2 separate regions of the Homo sapiens genome follow, and region 1 is linked to region 2. The links come from fine-mapping of genetic effects on gene expression. Tissue or cell type: whole blood. Region 2 holds a variant in brackets; the other region holds the start of a gene. All regions are shown on one strand. Distances are from middle to middle.

Region 1 (8,109 bases), 66 kb after region 2:
CAAAAATGTTAAGATTAACATAATTTACATACAAATTCAGCTCAAGTTAACTGTAAAATAAAATTCCATATTATAGGTTCATTTTCAAAATATATTTTTATTTTCTTCAAACAGCATCAAGCTAAAGGACCAGGTATGGTTAGACAAGTACATGAATGTGAATTCAACCCTATATTACCAGCACAGGCAAGACCCCATTTCCCAGAATTGGATAAAACTAGGTAAATGCATGTCTTTGTCTTATATTTATCTAGAGGTGATATAAATAATGTAAAATATTTACAAACAAGCAGAATATTAAAAGGAAGGATAAAGGTTTACTTTGGATTAGAAGTTTGTGTAAGCTTTTTTCTCTTTTAATTTGTGTAGACAGCTTTGATATTTAAGGACAAGACAAAAATCACCAAGTAAAAATAATTGGGAAAGCCAGTATGAATTAGTAAATACTTATAATAACTTAAATCCAAATTCCATCAAGAACTCAATCTTGGCCAGGCGCGGTGGCTCACGCCTGTAATCCCAGCACTTTGGGAGGCCGAGGCAGGCAGATCACAAGGTCAGGAGTTTGAGACCGGCCTGGCCAATGTGGCGAAACCCCGTCTCTACTAAAAATACGAAAATTAGCCAGGCATGGTGGCATGTGCCTGTGGTACCAGCTGCTCAGGAGGCTGAGGCAGAGGAGTCGCTTGAACACGGGAGGCAGAGGTTGTGGTGAGCTGAGATTGCGCTGTTGCACTCCAGCCTGAGCGACAGAGCGAGACTCTGTCTCAAAAAAAAAAAAAAAGAACTCAATCTTGTCTGAGAGTCTATCAGAGGTACTCAGAATAATTTAATATATTGATAGCCACAGATTTTTACTAGTATACTTTCTTTCTATGCAAATAGGTGGTTTATTTATTTATTTATTTATTTATTTGAGACAGGGTCTCACTCTGTTGCCCAGGCTGGAGTACAGTGGTACAATCACAGCTCACTGTAGTCTTGGAGCTCCTGAGCTCAAGCTATCCTCCTGCCTCAGCCTCTTGAGTAGCTGGGACAGAGGTATGTGCCACCGTGCCCAGATAATTTAAATTTTTTTTTTTTTTTTTTTTTTTTTGGAGAGACAAGGGACTCCCTATGTTACTCCTGGACTAAAGCAATCCTCCCACATTGGCTTTCCAAAGTGCTGAGGTTACAGGCACAAGCCCCTGCGCCCGACCACAAGTAGGTGTTTTAAACCAGTGTTTTTTTTTAACAAGGCACAAACATTCGACTTAAGGGTGACAGCATAGTACTTTACCAGGAATAAAGTTATGTTTTACACATATACACGTGGAAAAATTAAAACCCTATGAAGTTGGTATTGTCTTATATTAAGTAATGAGGAAACTGAGGCATAAAGTAGCTAAGGATTTTGTTCAAAGAGCAAGTGATGGCATAATCAGAACTTGAACCCAGGTCTACCCAGCATCAGAGCCCATATTCCTAATCCCCACACTGGGGCTGCAGGAGGAAATTAATGGAAGGATTCCCACAAAACAAGACAAATCTTTTACCATATAAATAAATTCACATTATGAGTGGACAAATGAAACTGTACTATTAAAGCACTTTATCCTCTTTTTTCTTTTTTTTTTTTTTTTGCTTTTTGTTTTGTTTTGTTTTGTTTTTGAGACAGAGTCTCACTCTGTCGCCCAGGCTGGAGTGTAGTGGCGCGATCTCGGCTCACTGCAAGCTCTGCCTCCCGGGTTCACGCCATTCTCCTGCCTCAGCCTCCCAAGTAGCTGGGACTACAGGCGCCTGCCACCATGCCCAGCTAATTTTTTGTATTTTTAGTAGAGACGGGGTTTCACTGTGTTAGCCAGGATGGTCTCCATCTCCTGACCTCGTGATCCGCCCTCCTCGGCCTCCCAAAGTGCTGGGATTACAGGCGTGAGACACCATGCCCGGCCTCTTCATTTTTTTAAATCAGAAAGTGTTTCTAATTTTTATCCCCAAAATAAATAAAGCCTTCTTTATTTTGGGGCAGCGGGTAGGCAGCTAATTCTACTGAGATATTTGCCATTCATTTTCCTTGGTTTTCCAACTTCATTAAAGGAAACAAGTGAGAAAGTGAATCTAAGTAACTAATGGAGATGCAACAAAAATTCAAAGTCATCCCAACAGGATCTCAGACATCAAACCCCTAAAAGGGAATATATAATTCTGTACTTACTGCAACTGGTTCACATGAGGAAAAAAAAAAAAAAAAAGGAAGACTCTGTGAGAGATAACTAAACACTTCCTGGTATTTTTTTAATGGTTCATTTGAAAATCTTTTCAGGAATCGCAAAATAGTGTACAGTGAGCTCTTCAGGGTATTAAGGCCTGGATAACCCATCAGAAAGCTGCCTCTTTCTGAGCAATTTGATCTGGCAAGATTCCAGGGTAATTACAACCAAATAAGAAAACAGATGCAACAGTTAATACTTATGCGATGATATGAGCTTAGAAATAAATGGTTGTATCTAAATAAATGCTTTTTAACAGAAAAAAGTCATGCAAATCATGTTCATCGTTAACTATTCATGGACACGAGACCATATGTCTGTGACCTTTGTTACTGTTAAGTACTATAGCTTGTAGATACGTGGGTTACTTGAAAGTAATTGGCTGCTTCTACTGTGGCGAGACACTAATTATTCTGAGGAGGAAAGAAATGCAACAATCTCTAATTGATTTCCAGATTATCCACCCCATCTAAGGGTAAACCTAAGCTAAATAATAATATTAAAGGCCTGGTACTTTCCAAAAGCTAAGGGATGAAAGAAAATCTACTGTTTATCGGCCATAAGGTTATATACTGTTTCTTAGCAACCAGGGTTTGTCTTTCAGAGACTAGAAGTCGATGAAAAAGGAGAGACTAAAAATAAAACCATCTGGACAGTTCCAATTCACAGAGGCAGCACTTCAAAGGCAGTGATGTTGTGATAAACCATACTGTTGAGTTAAAGTTCATTCCATTGGCTAGAAAGAGAGGCTCATGACACTTGCTTAATAAATGTTTCCCGGATACTCACTGCAGTCCCTGAACCAAAGACCAGGAATAAAAGCTACCTATCTGTTCCTGCATAGAGCACATATCAACATCAGGGATGAGAGGTACTATGGTCACTCACCTCCTCACTCTCTCAGCTCCACTCCTCTGGTTGTAAGAGGCTAGTTTATCTGCGAGTCTTGCTGGGACGTAGGCTTGCTCCTACCTAGAGGCAGAATTTGAACCTTCTACCCCATATCACATTTCTTGTTGACCCTTACCTGTTAGTGTCTGATACAGTAATTCCGTTTAGGACACCAAGTTTTGTTTTTCTGTTTTGTTTTGTTTTGAGACAGTCTCGCTCTGTTGCCCAGGCTGGAGTGCAATGGCGCAATTTCCGCTCACTGCAACCTCCGCCTCCCGGGTTCAAGCGATTCTCCTACCTCAGCCTCCCAGGTAGCTGGGACTACAGGCACGTGCCATCACACCCAGCTTATTTTTTATTTTTAGTAAAGACTGGGTTTCACCATGTTGGCCAGGCTGGTTTCGAACTCCTGACCTCAGGTGATCTGCCTGCCTTGGCCTCCCAAAGTGCTGGGATAACAGGCTTGAGCCAACGCGCCTGGCCCAGCACCAAATTTTTAAAAACAGTAAGGGAAAAGTTATTTCCATACTGGTTGGAGTATGAGTTCTGGAGATACCTGGAAAATGACATCTTACTGGATGCCTAGGCAGTTCCGACACACCCATATCTTTCAATCCTGTAGCCAGTCACAAAAATCAGGAAAGTAGTATTCCTGGAAGGAACCGGGCTGGTTATTTACCAAAGGACTGCAAACTAGCCGACTCAATTTATAAGGTGCGGCATGGATACTTTCATTTAAGCAAATGAGCTTTCATTCAGTCAAAATCCCTGTTGTTGGGCCCCTGTGGTTTTAAACTCCAAGGACCAAGGTGCTTGTGAGTGAGTATGTTTGGGGCCCGGGCTCCCGCCCCGAAGCCAGGTTGTTAAAATACTCACCGCCTCTGGCCCGCGTGCACGACGCTCTCCCGCGAAGGGCCCTTAGGGGCTGCCTCCAAACCCTCTCTCTGGTCTTCCACGGGGCTCAGCTCCCCTTGCCGCCCAGAAGGGTCCTGGGGATCCCGGGTCGGGCGGGAGGCAGGGGAGGCGCCGAGCCCGGAGTTCACCACTCTATTGCGGGTGTTCATGGTTCACAGCCCGCGGGTCCCGGGCCGCCGTCGCTGCGGGAGGGATGCGGCTGGGACGCTTAGCGAGTCTCAAGATGGGATTCCAAAGTGCAGAGGCAGCGGTTTTAACAGCTGAGTTTCGGTTTCTCAGAATCAGCAGCAGACTGCGCCCGCCCCAGAGAACTTCCCCACGTATTCTCCACTGAGGCCCCGTCCGACCTTATCGCGGGTTAACAGCCCAGGATGTTGACTTGAGCTGGCTTGGTCGGCTACAGGTGAGACGGTTTAAAGTCTCACAATCACCTTAGAGGTTAATCAGAATAACTGGGATCAGCCACGGACACCTGGTGAGCGATTAGCCCGCAGAGTGACTACAATCCTGAAAGATACTTGAGAAACTGTTTAACAGGCAACTCTAATTTGAGGTTACCGCTGGATATTTGAGACTGTAAAAAATATATTAACCTTAAAATACCAGAGATTAGGTCAATAACTAAAATCATCTCAACAAAATGTCGCCTTTTATCAGTAATGACTGCTGTGTGGCTGTTACCAATGCACATACTTTCAAGTTAGAGGAAATGGAAACTGAAATCAAAAGAAAACAAAAACCTACAAAGCCGGAGAAGTAAGCTAAGGTAGACATGATTCTCCAGGCAGCCTTGCTAAGTAATTGACTAGACATTCGAGAACTATTAAAAATACCTGCTCTGTGCAGAACAGTGTGCAACGGTGATGTGGGGACATTTTAAAATATGGATGTGTAAGGCTCAGTTCCTGTAGGTTCAGGGGTGAGCTCTGGCATTCATATTTTTGAAAAGCTCCCAGATGATTCTGATGTGTGCCAGGGTTGGTCACCAGGGTCACAATGCCGTCTACACAAAGATGAGTGAAGGCTCTTCCCTCATGCTACCTGCATTCTAGGAGTATCCTAGTAGACAGGTAAACAAATGGGAATGCCACTTTGGGATAAATGAAATGACAGGCAGCTGTGGAGGCACAGAGAAACTGGGGATTAGCCCTCTGAGTAATTCAGGAACAGGGACATTTGAGAATGAGCCACCAAAGACATAGGAATTCACCAAGAAGAAGGAGATGCTATGGCAGAGGCTTGTCACTTAAAATGACATGGTGTGTACTTAATTCCAGGGGTTGTCATGTGGCTGGAGCACCCCAGTCCTAGGTCAGCAAGACAGTTAGGAGCTGGACTGTCTTCCTTATATTATTGGTGCTTAGAACAAAAAGACACATACAGGTTTGATAGCTAATGAAAGAATGAAATTGAAGGGTGGGCCAGGGTGGGACAGGAGAGGAGAAAATAATGACAAGGAACATGGTAGGAAAGTCAGTCAGGATTTCTATGCCATCCTAAGACATTAGGGTTTTGTAGAGTAGGCCAGAGTTTCACAAATTTCAGTAAGCATCAGAACCACTTGGAGGAGGGTGCGTTAAAACAGATTTATGGCCAGGCACGGTGGCTCACTCCTGTAATTCCAGTACTTTTGGAGGCCGAGGCAGGAGGATTACCTGGAGATCAGGAGTTGAAGACCAGCCTAGCCAACGTGGCGAAACCCCACCTCCACCTGGGCGACAGAGAGAGACTCCATCTCAAAAATATATATATATAGTTTCTGATTCAGGTCTGGGATGGGGCCCAAGGATTTGCATTTCTAACAAATTTCCAGGTGATACCAATGATGCCAGTCTCAGGATCACCCTTTGGGAACCACTGTTGTAGGCAATGTGGAAGGCACAGGAAGTTTTTCAATAGGGCAGTTACTCAATAATATCTGTTTTACAAAGTTAGCTTCTAACAATGTGAAAACGGAGATTGAAAGATGAAGAGACTGAAATCGGGAAGATAAATTCAGAGCCTAGTTACGTCTAGGTAAGAAATACAGATCTGAGCTAAGGCAACCCAGAAAGTGGGGAGCAAAATCAAGACATTTCACATGGGCCAGGCTCAGTTGCTCATGCCTGTAATCCCAGCACTTTTGGAGGCTGAGGCAGGAGGATCACCTGAGGCCAGGAGTTTAAGGCCAGCCTGGGCAGCATGGTAAGACCTCATCTCTACAAAACAAATAAATAAAACATAAAAGACATTTCACATGAGAGATTAGCATAGATAAAAACTAGATGAAAGAGAGAATTGAGTACTGGAAGGCAGCAGAGAGAAGGGGAGATGGCTTTTATAGTGCTTTGAGACCAGCTTTGCCACATACTGGCCACACAACCAAGGCCAAATCTCTTAATTCCTCAGAGATCCAGTTTCCTCCTCTGCCTCATGTGGGTATTGTGAGGAATAGAGATCATCCACATCAGTGGTTCTCAAATGGAGTTGATTTTTCCTCTAGCAGACATCTGGCAATGCCTGGACATATTTTTGATTGTGAAGCCTCAAAGTGGGTAGGTGCTGCTAGCATCTAGTGTGTAAAGGCCGGGGATGCTCCTAAACATCCTACAATGCACAGAATAGGCCCACATGACAAAGAGTTGTCCTGCCCCACGTGTCAACAGTGTTGAAGTTGAAAAATCCTGATCTTCACAGTATGCCTACCTTATAGCCCCAGTAATTTAATGGTTGCTGTCTTTATGGTGACTTTTAGCTTTGTGACTGGATACGAGGTAGAACCATTAACCTAGAGGAGGGACAAGCTTTGAGGGAAGTTCTAAAAGTCTGTTTAGGTGCTGTTGGGTGTAAGGTACCAGCGGGGTGAGAAACGCAGACCTAGAGATCAACAAAAAAGAGGAACAGCAGGGCCTTTCTGGAGGCCATCTTCCACATTGTTCTTTACTAGGAAAATACCCCTGGAACTCTTGTTTCAAAGGAGAAAATTATTTTGGTGGTTGGATGAAATTTAAAGTTTGAGGAAGGGAAAACCCACACTGGGGGAAAACTGATTCTCCTAAAGGAGCTAGTAATAGGGATGTTGGCCTCAAGAATATACTTAGTTAACCATATTTGTTTCACAACACAACCACATGTCACACCAAAGTTTCAAACCTGAGATTTCTCACTCCATTCACTTCTTGTTTTACCTGAGATTTCTCACTCCATTCACTTCTTGTTTTGCCACATTCTCAAAGTGTTTTAAAAAATGTGAATGTGAGGCTGGATGCGGTGGCTCACACCTGTAATCCCAGCACTTTGGGAGGCCGAGGCAGGCGGATCACGAGGTCAGGAGATCGAGACCATCCTGGCTAATACGGTGAAACCCTGTCTCTACTAAAAATACAAAAAATTAGCCGGGCGTGGTGGTGGGCGCCTGTAGTTCCAGCTATTCCGAAGGCTGAGGCAGGAGAATGGCGTGAACCCGGGAGGCGGAGCTTGCAGTGAGCCGAAATCATGCCACTGCACTCCGGCCTGGGTGACAGAGCGAGACTCCGTCTCAACAACAACAACAAAAAAAAGTGAATGTGATTTATTATGGCAACAGACATCTACAGGCTCCTTTTGGATGCCCGAGAATGGGCTACTTGTGTATCATCCATTCTTTCACCGTAGGTGTGTGCATTTGGGCGAAAATAAGGGCTGGCCTTTTACTGGAGTTGTTCTTGGGTGCGTTTTTCTATAGTAGTGGCTGGTGGAGAGAAGCAGAGGTGAGTGGGGAGGGTCCTGGGCCCCTATCCCTATTTAGCCAAGTACTTTAGCCCCTTATCTCTTCTACTCACTAGGCCACTGCCTAATTTTGTTTGAGGCAAGAATTCAATGGCTTTTAAAAGTTTGAAAAACCACCATACTAGACAATTACCTAGGAATATGTTTTAAGAGACATGAGAAAGAAGTGAAATCTAGTGGGATTGTTACCTTACCTGAAATTTGGCCAATTAGAGATTCATTTAGGAAATGTTTTTCTTTTCAAATGAAACTGCCTCTGGGAAATAATCATGTATTCGTTCCTTTTGGTAAATGAGTTTAATCTGAG
Region 2 (8,109 bases):
AACACCCAGGACAGGTTAAAGCAGGAGGAAAGAGGGATCCAGGAGGGAGAGAAAAAAAAAAATCCACAAGTTATCTGACAGGCATAAGTTGGAAAATTGTTTAGAAATTTGCGTCAAGAGGCATTTTGTAGAACAGTCACAAAAGCTGTCAGAAGACAGTCAAATGTTCAAAGGAAACTAAGAAAACGCTAAAATAAAATGTTTAAAGAGTTGTACAGAAGATATAACCAGAGTATACCGACTGGCTTGGCAGTGAGAAAACGTGTATATAGTCATAATAGGGAAAGCTCAAATTACTGAATAATTATAAGAATGAGAGGAAGAAATGAGTTAATAAGGTCTAAAATTGATTAGTCAAGAGATACCAACACATATTAACAGATATTCGGAGCTAACTAAGAAAAGAAACAGGTGGTGGGTTGCATAATGGCCCCCCAAAGACGTCCCAATCCCTGGAATCTGTGAATGTTTCTTTATGTGACAAAAGGGACTTTGCAGAAATTAAGGATCTGGAAGTGGAGAGATTAGCCTGGATAGTCCAGGTGGGCCCATTGTAATCAAAAGGGTCATTATAAGAGGAAGGCAGAAAGGTCAGGGAGGGTGCAGAAGGTTGGGTGAGATGGAAGCTAAACTGGAGCCATGCAGCCGTGTGCCAAGGGTTTGCGGGGACAGGGGACAGATGCCCCCCGGAAGCTTCAAAAGGAACCATTCCTGTTGATACCCTCATTTTAGCATTTTAAAACCCATTTTTATTGCTGACCTCCAGAAGTGTTAAGAGAATAAATTTTTGTTCTATTAGGTCACTACATTCGTGGTAATTTGTTACAGCAGCAAAGGGAAGTGTTCAAATGTTGCGGTGGAAGTGGGATTCAAGCGGCGCAAAGGGACACATGTTAAGTACTTTATTTGACTTCTTAATGAATGAGCATGTGACACGTAGATAAAAATTACAATAATCAACCTGCACTGAGTGCTCACAGTAGTGTGAGAGAGGAGAGCTGGAGAGGCATGAGCTATAGAGCTTGGCCCCTCAGACATTAACGTGCACACACATCTTCCATGGACTGTATTAAATACAAGCTCTGATTCAGGAGGTCTGCAGTGGGGCCTGAGATTGATCTGCATCTAAATCTTTGCTCCTGATTTCAAAAGCTTTGCTTCCCCTTACCTTGCTTGCAAAAGCTTTGCTTCCCCTCACCCCTTTGCAGAAGCAAAGATTTAGACTCGAGGCCAGTCCTCCAGACCCCAGAGGACTAGAAAGGGGCCATTCTAAAGAAAGAGACAGAATCTAGAATTAAAGGAGAGACGGAGGGACAGAGAGAGGAAAGGACTTTGTGCCTAAGCTAAGACATTTTGATTTTATCCTTGAAGATATGGGGGACCACTGAATGATTTGGGGAAGTGAAACACCAGGATAAGATTTTTTCACATCGTTATTCTTCGTTGAGGAAGTAGGGGCATAAGGCCGGGTGCGGTGGCTCACACCTGTAATCCCAGCACTTTGGGAGGCCAAGGTGGGTGGATCATTTCAGCCCAGGAGTTTGAGATCACCCTGCGCAATGTGGCAAAACCCTGTCTCTACAAAAACTACAAAAGTTAGCTGGGCGTGGGGGTGCGTGCCTGTGGTCCCAGCCACTTAGGAGGCTGAGGTGGCAGGATGGCTTGAACCTGGGAGGTGGAGGTTGCAGTGAGCCAAGATCATGCTGCTGCACTCCAGCCTGGGTGACAGAGTGAGACCCTGTCTAAAAATAAATAAATAAATAAAAAATGGGGGCAGCAAACCAGAGACTAGAAACCATTTCATATTTGACTAGAAATATGCAGCGATGGTCGCTGAGGAAGGTCTGATGATGCTGGTACTTCTGCCTACACACACAATACAGAGAACTATATTAATCCACATGTAAAAGTGAACCCTGTAAATATCTCTTGTCTGAAGTCCTAAGCCAAAAGGAATTTTCTTGTAACCACTAAAGGATTTTTCTTGTAATCTTTTACATTGACATAATTTTCTAGTATTTATTAAATCCCCATCTGCCAATGGCAGATCCACTTTTAAAGGAGAAAAGTACAAGAGGAAAAATCTTTTCAGGAAAGTTACATTAGGTAGTAAAATTAAAGTATTAAAAATTATATATAAATTCTTCCAGCTCATCACATCCCATATAGATGGCAATCACATAGTGTTCACATTCTATAAGTTGACCATAGCTAAAGTAAACTGCAGGTGTCCTCTTTTTACAAAGAAATGTTCTTCACAGAAGTGCAATGTACATATTTGATTTTCCTACACCATTAGAAATGATTCTGCAAAGCATTCTCAGAAGAATTCTATGCATATGGATGAGACAGAATGAGAAGAGTATAATATGGGTAAAAAGTCAATTAAATATATTGAACACTGAAACCGTATTAATAGTTTGGGGTCAAAATCGGAGCAGCTATTGCGTGGAGTTTATAAGGAACCGTCCTGGGTCCAATCTCCCTCCATATTTTCTATTAATAGCTCTGAGGATCCTATGACAAATGCACTAATCAATCCACAGAAAATGCAGCTCTGGGAAACATTGCTAATGCTTTGGATGACAATATTAAAATTCAGGACGATCTTGTTAAATTGAAGAAATGAGCCAAAATCAATAGAGCAGCACACGCAGTTCTGCCAGGTGTTCCACATTGCAGGATACAGGGAGCCCTCGAACGGAAAGGAAGACCAGCCTGGTAGGCGAAACTCCAGCTGGTAAAGCTATCCAACTCCTGTTCTCCCTCTCCCTCCCTGACAGCCACAAGGATATCCAGACAGGTGTTTAGGGCTGTCATCTACACATGATTTAACTCCACTGCCTACAGCTTCTCAACTCTTTCCCCCAGAGCCCAGCAGTGAGGGAAGAGAGATGATGAATTTCCTTTAATATAAGTTGTAGGGCCCACACTGATGAATTTAGACTTTAGAACATCACATTAGAAGCAGAAAGAAAAAAATTAGGAAACAACTAAAGATTTCTAAGTAGGAGTATAATGACCTCTTCCTAAGGAGTGTCATAATATCTTCCTGACATTTAAAAACATGGTCTCTATTGAGAAAGGGGTAAGGGGAGATGAAGATGAGGGTTCTTTAACAACTCATTTAGCTACCCAAACTCTGAGAAACCTGAGACTTTAAGAAACTTAAATTCATCTTTTCTTTCAGCTACAACCCTTATCCAGAGTCATCCTTAATTACACTTACTTTCTTGTCCCCAGTTAGCAAGTCAATAAACAAGCCCTGCCGCTTTCACCTTCTAAGCAGTTTTCTGACCTGCACTCTCTTCTCCATCCTCTCCCCCGCTGTCCTAGCTGAAGTCTTCATCATTCTTTACCCAGACTGATACAGAAGCCTTGGGGGGCCTCTCTGCTTCTCTATTCCTTTAGAGCCCTCCTTCACAATGTTGCCAATGTGATCCAGAATGAAAACACAAATCTAACCTTGAGTTTTCCCTGTTTAAACATTTCCAATACCCTCAGTGCTCACAGAATGGGGTTTAGGTTTTCCAAGGTGGCATGCAAATTTCTGTGGTGGTTTTCTACCAGGAGCACCATGAGCACGCAGTATGCGGGGCATTTCTACATGTCTCATTGGTAAGCACTGTGTGGGGGCATTTCTAGATGTCTCAGTGTCTGGGTGGCGCTACTGGCCCTTCATGCCCAGGGCCTAGGGATACTAAGCATCCTGCAGTAATCAAGACAACTCACACAATGAACTGTCCCACCTGAATTTCCAGAGGTAACACCATTGGGAAAGGGTCCTCACCGTTCCTGCTCATTTCTATATCCTTCTAGCTCACTTTTCTGCACTGCAGCTACATAACTCTTCTTCCGCAACACAAGCCATGCTTATTTCTTGCATTTATACCTTAATTCTTGCTCTATGTGTCTTTATTAATTCTGATACCTGGAAAGACTCATCACTTTACTGATTCATAGTTTAAGCTTCTGCTCTGGTGTCATTTCCCAAGAAGCATCTAACGCACATGGTCTGACTTAGATGCTTCTTCCTGATAAGGCAGTAGTGCTTTCTTATTGTGATATGCTCTGTGCTCAGCAGTTTGCTTTAAAACCATTAGTGTTCTCCTTTACTAAGGTTCATTGGGCAGAAACTGTAGGCACTTAGTAGGCCTTATATAGACCTATGAATTTAAAGAATGGAAGGAAGGATGGATGGATGCATGGATGGAAGGAAGGAAGGAAGGAAGGTAGGAAGGATGGAAGGATGGAAGAATGGATGGGTGGATGGGTGGGTGAATGAATGGTTGGGTGAGAGGAAAAACTTCTCTGAGGCTGTTTTAGTCCAGGTGCCCATAAAATAATACAAGCATTATTTTATAGCTCAGGCAACAGTTGAGGTCAAAGTTTCGGATCAGGTCATCTGTCTTTAGTTCCAGCATTCTATGATGTACAAGTCACTCTATATCCCTCATCTTCAGTCACTAAATACCTCTATAAAATGTGCCAGGCAGCACCCTGCAAAGTAATTCACTTACCCATGTTGAGGATTGTGGGCCACAAACAGCACTTTGACAGGCACTTCTGTCTGGCGATTCTGTGTTCAGTTTGCTCAAGAACTCAGCGGTTTT[G/C]CTACCAGAAACACAAACAGGTGTTAGTGCCTTCACAAAAATATGAACATAATTCTTTATTTTTCCTTTGGATACTAACCTAGACTTATTTGGGTGATGATTAAAATTATCTTCAGCAGAACAGAAAGTTACGTTGAGAACAAGGTGTAGCAGAAATCAAAACAAAATGCTATTGCAAGATTGCATTCTTCAAGAACAATATTACAAAATTATAAAACTAGCTTTATGAAATGTGAGCTTATGACCTCATTTTTTCCACTTTATATTACTGACATAAATACAAGTCCTCTCCCAGAGCACATTCCACAGCATGCAGCCCTAATTTCCTATCTGAACATTTAATGCTTAACACTCAGACTTCAGGGTGGAGCTGTGGAACATTCACGCCCTACAACATCCTGCTTCACACCAGTTTTACATTAAGCCCTTTACCCTCTCATCTGCCTCATGGCTTTGACCACTGTTAGGACACAGAGACCCTCTAATCCAGTAGCTCTTTTCCATTTATGGATCATGGAGCCCTTTTGGACTCTGAAAGCAAAAGTGAACCCTCTGTTAACAGACACACACACACACACACACACACACACACACACACACAGTCCTTTGCATTTTGTTTCAGAGAGAGGATAAACCCTCCATAGGGTTTATCTATAGAGGTTAAAAAGTGCTGCTGATTCTAGACTGCATTTCTAATATCTCTTTTTAGCTCTGAAAAATTGACCTAGAAATGTCCTCAGTTTAAATAAGAAGTTCTCTGTTTTTACCTTAAAAATCCAAACCACCACCCCAATTTCCCCTCTCACTTATGCCAAGCATAGAACACTGGAATTGTTTCCTAGTCCTTACCTCAGTGCCTGGCCCATTCTGCCTACCCTTGATTAATTTCTACGCCTTTGTCCTTTTCTCATGTAATTTGTGTGATTTTTATCTCTTCATTGCACATTCACAGCCACATACCTCATTGAGCACTGACTTACTTTGCACCAGACTTGCGCAGCCTGTTCCCATCTCCCTCCCTCCTCCTGCTAGCCCTCTGCTTCCCCCTAATATTTTAAGCCCAATGCTAAGATCTGATTCATCAAGTACTTAGGACATGGGCATCAAAGGAAACACAAAGTATCTGGTAGAACAAATGGCATCCAGTGTAGGAGCAAAACAAGGAATTAGAAACTAAACAGGTGCCAGCATCACTTCAAATATTACTTAGGTAGAACATGGCATTTGAAAAAGGTCAGAAGCTTGATCTGGGGAAGGAAGAAATAAAAGTGAAGCAACATACAGAACCCTGAGAAACATTCAGCAGTTGAGACGAGCAGCCTTTCCATTTGTCTTAGATTACTTATCTTGCCCAGAATAGACAAGGAGACTAATGAAGTCACAGAGTGTGGAAGCTGCCCCATTGTCTGGGGCTTTATGAAGTCATCAGTCAAAAGTATAAAAAGAAGAGTGATGCCAGAAGTTTGGATGAGATCTCTGAATATCCTAAGCCAAGTGCAGGCCATAGGAGAAAGCAGTGAAAAAGAAACACTGTGACAAGCAAGGAAGAAACTTCAGACCAAGTTGACAGGCAGCCCTTCAGTTTACTGACTGCCGCTTCTTACCTGCCAACGCCAAGCACAAAGCTGCCTGCAGAGCCAGCCTCTATCTGTGGTCCTTGTGCCAATTATCACTGCCCCACTCATGCCGCAGGATATAAAGCAGAGTGACAGGGTCACAGGACTGCCAGAGGAATACAGGTAGGGGCCTGCAGAGTATGCGGATTACTGCCAAGTGATCAACTATACAAAGGAAGTCCCATGTTACGACACTAACTCATATTTTTCTACTATTAGCATTAGTCCCTGGTATATAAAATTTCCATATATTGGCTGAACTGAAGTGGGATCCCTGTAGGTAACTCTGGTTATATTTAACAAAAATAAGATGTAGAACCTGTTTGAGGGGCAAACGAAGGAAAACATCCTCGTGGGAAGTCCAACTGGACTAAGAACCCTGGACTCTAGCACTGTTTTCACCTTGCCCTTGGGGGTTCTTGGTATTATCACTACCGTGACTCTACTGCCTGTTGGAGAGGGGTGGTCCTCTTCCACTTTGTCACTCTGATCCAAGCATGAAAGATTTCTTCCTCTATTCTCCATAGAACAAAATAAAATTTACTTATGTCCAACTTAGGATCTTTAAGGGTCCTTCCTGCTCATTCTTAGGTTGATTTCTATGGCATATCCTGAAAGGTCCCTTCAGGAAAATCTCGCCTCAACAGAATACAGTTGTAGCAGACTGCTAAATGGTCATGAAAATTTACATTCTCCTCTTCTGGCCACACAACTTGGCTACATTTCCTAGCCTCCCTTGCAGCTAAGGTTGGCTATATGATTGAGTCTTGACCAATGGAATGTGAGAAGTGTTGAATGCCACATCCAGTACTAACTTATTAGAAAATTCCCATGCATGTGCCTCCATACATTGTTCTCCTGGCTGGAACAGAGACAGCCCTCAAGGAAATGCTGGAAGTTGTGCATTGAAGGTGGTGGAGTCTCTATCAGTTTTGGTTCCTAAATACCTGAGTGGAGGAGGCTGCCTTTCAAATTATGACACAATGGTATTTTAAAAAGCAGTCTATGCTTTTTGTGAATTCACTTATATGTAGTAAAATTAGAAACACTTGCCAAGTGAGAAGAGCAGCTCCTGGCATCCAGGAACTGATCTGATGCTCACGTCTAAATCTCAGTGTTATTATAAACTGATTTGATCTGACACTGAAGTTAAGCCTTGTTCCACTGTTGGATGTAAATAGTCACACAGAATATCTACTTCACACAAGGTCATCATGCAATCTACAAAGTACCAAACATCATCTCCTCTAAGTGAATGACCACTACTTCTTCACTAATTACAGCTTCGTAGTCACTCTAGGTCCTTCCTATAGGTAAGATTTATTGAGATACCCAATCATAAAACTGTCCCCACATTCTGATGGCACTCAATCCAGAGCAACTCCCTGCCTCCGTAGACCCTCCCCAAAATTACCCAACCAAAGCACAAATCCTGTAGTAGGGTCTTTCTAACACTTTCTCCCTGAGATAACTCACCATTCCCTATGGTATGCATTTTCCTTTGCTGCAATGAGTAATAAACCCAACTTGTTCAACTACAGGTATATTCCTGGTAGTTTTTGGTTAACGCACATTGACAAATATTACATACCAGGACAGTGGTTACTGCTAGAGAAAGACAGAGAAGGAAGGGATGAGGGTGGAGGGACAGCTAGCTGTCTCTGTAATATTTATCTTTTTTAATTAACCAAATATAAGTAATATCTTAACAATATGAGCTTAGTGGTTGATGCATATTTTCTGTGTGTTTGAAATGTTTCTTAAATAAAAAGGGGATAAAAAACCCCACACAGACTATGGTGGTGTTTACTAGGGAAAGACTTGGCAGATACCATTCCAGATTTCATAGAACAATAGTTTCCAGAATGCCAGTGGGAAGA

Evidence for each region. PIP is the estimated chance that this variant, and not a neighbour inherited with it, causes the effect.
Region 1: EPSTI1 starts here. The variant in region 2 is fine-mapped to the expression of EPSTI1 in whole blood (TOPMed, PIP above 0.99).

Annotation. Positions count from the first base shown.
Region 1 is chr13:42,987,962-42,996,070 of GRCh38, forward strand. EPSTI1 (epithelial stromal interaction 1) reads right to left here and starts at 4,280. Exons shown (of 11, transcript NM_033255.5): 1 at 4,017-4,280. The coding sequence starts at 4,204. RefSeq lists enhancers at 4,294-4,413, 4,674-4,913.
Region 2 is chr13:42,921,816-42,929,924 of GRCh38, forward strand. It overlaps EPSTI1 (epithelial stromal interaction 1), which reads right to left. Exons shown (of 11, transcript NM_033255.5): 7 at 4,521-4,614. Among named protein-coding and RNA genes, the nearest start is that of LINC00428, 53 kb to the left of the region's middle. The variant G/C (reference allele first, on the strand shown) is at 4,614.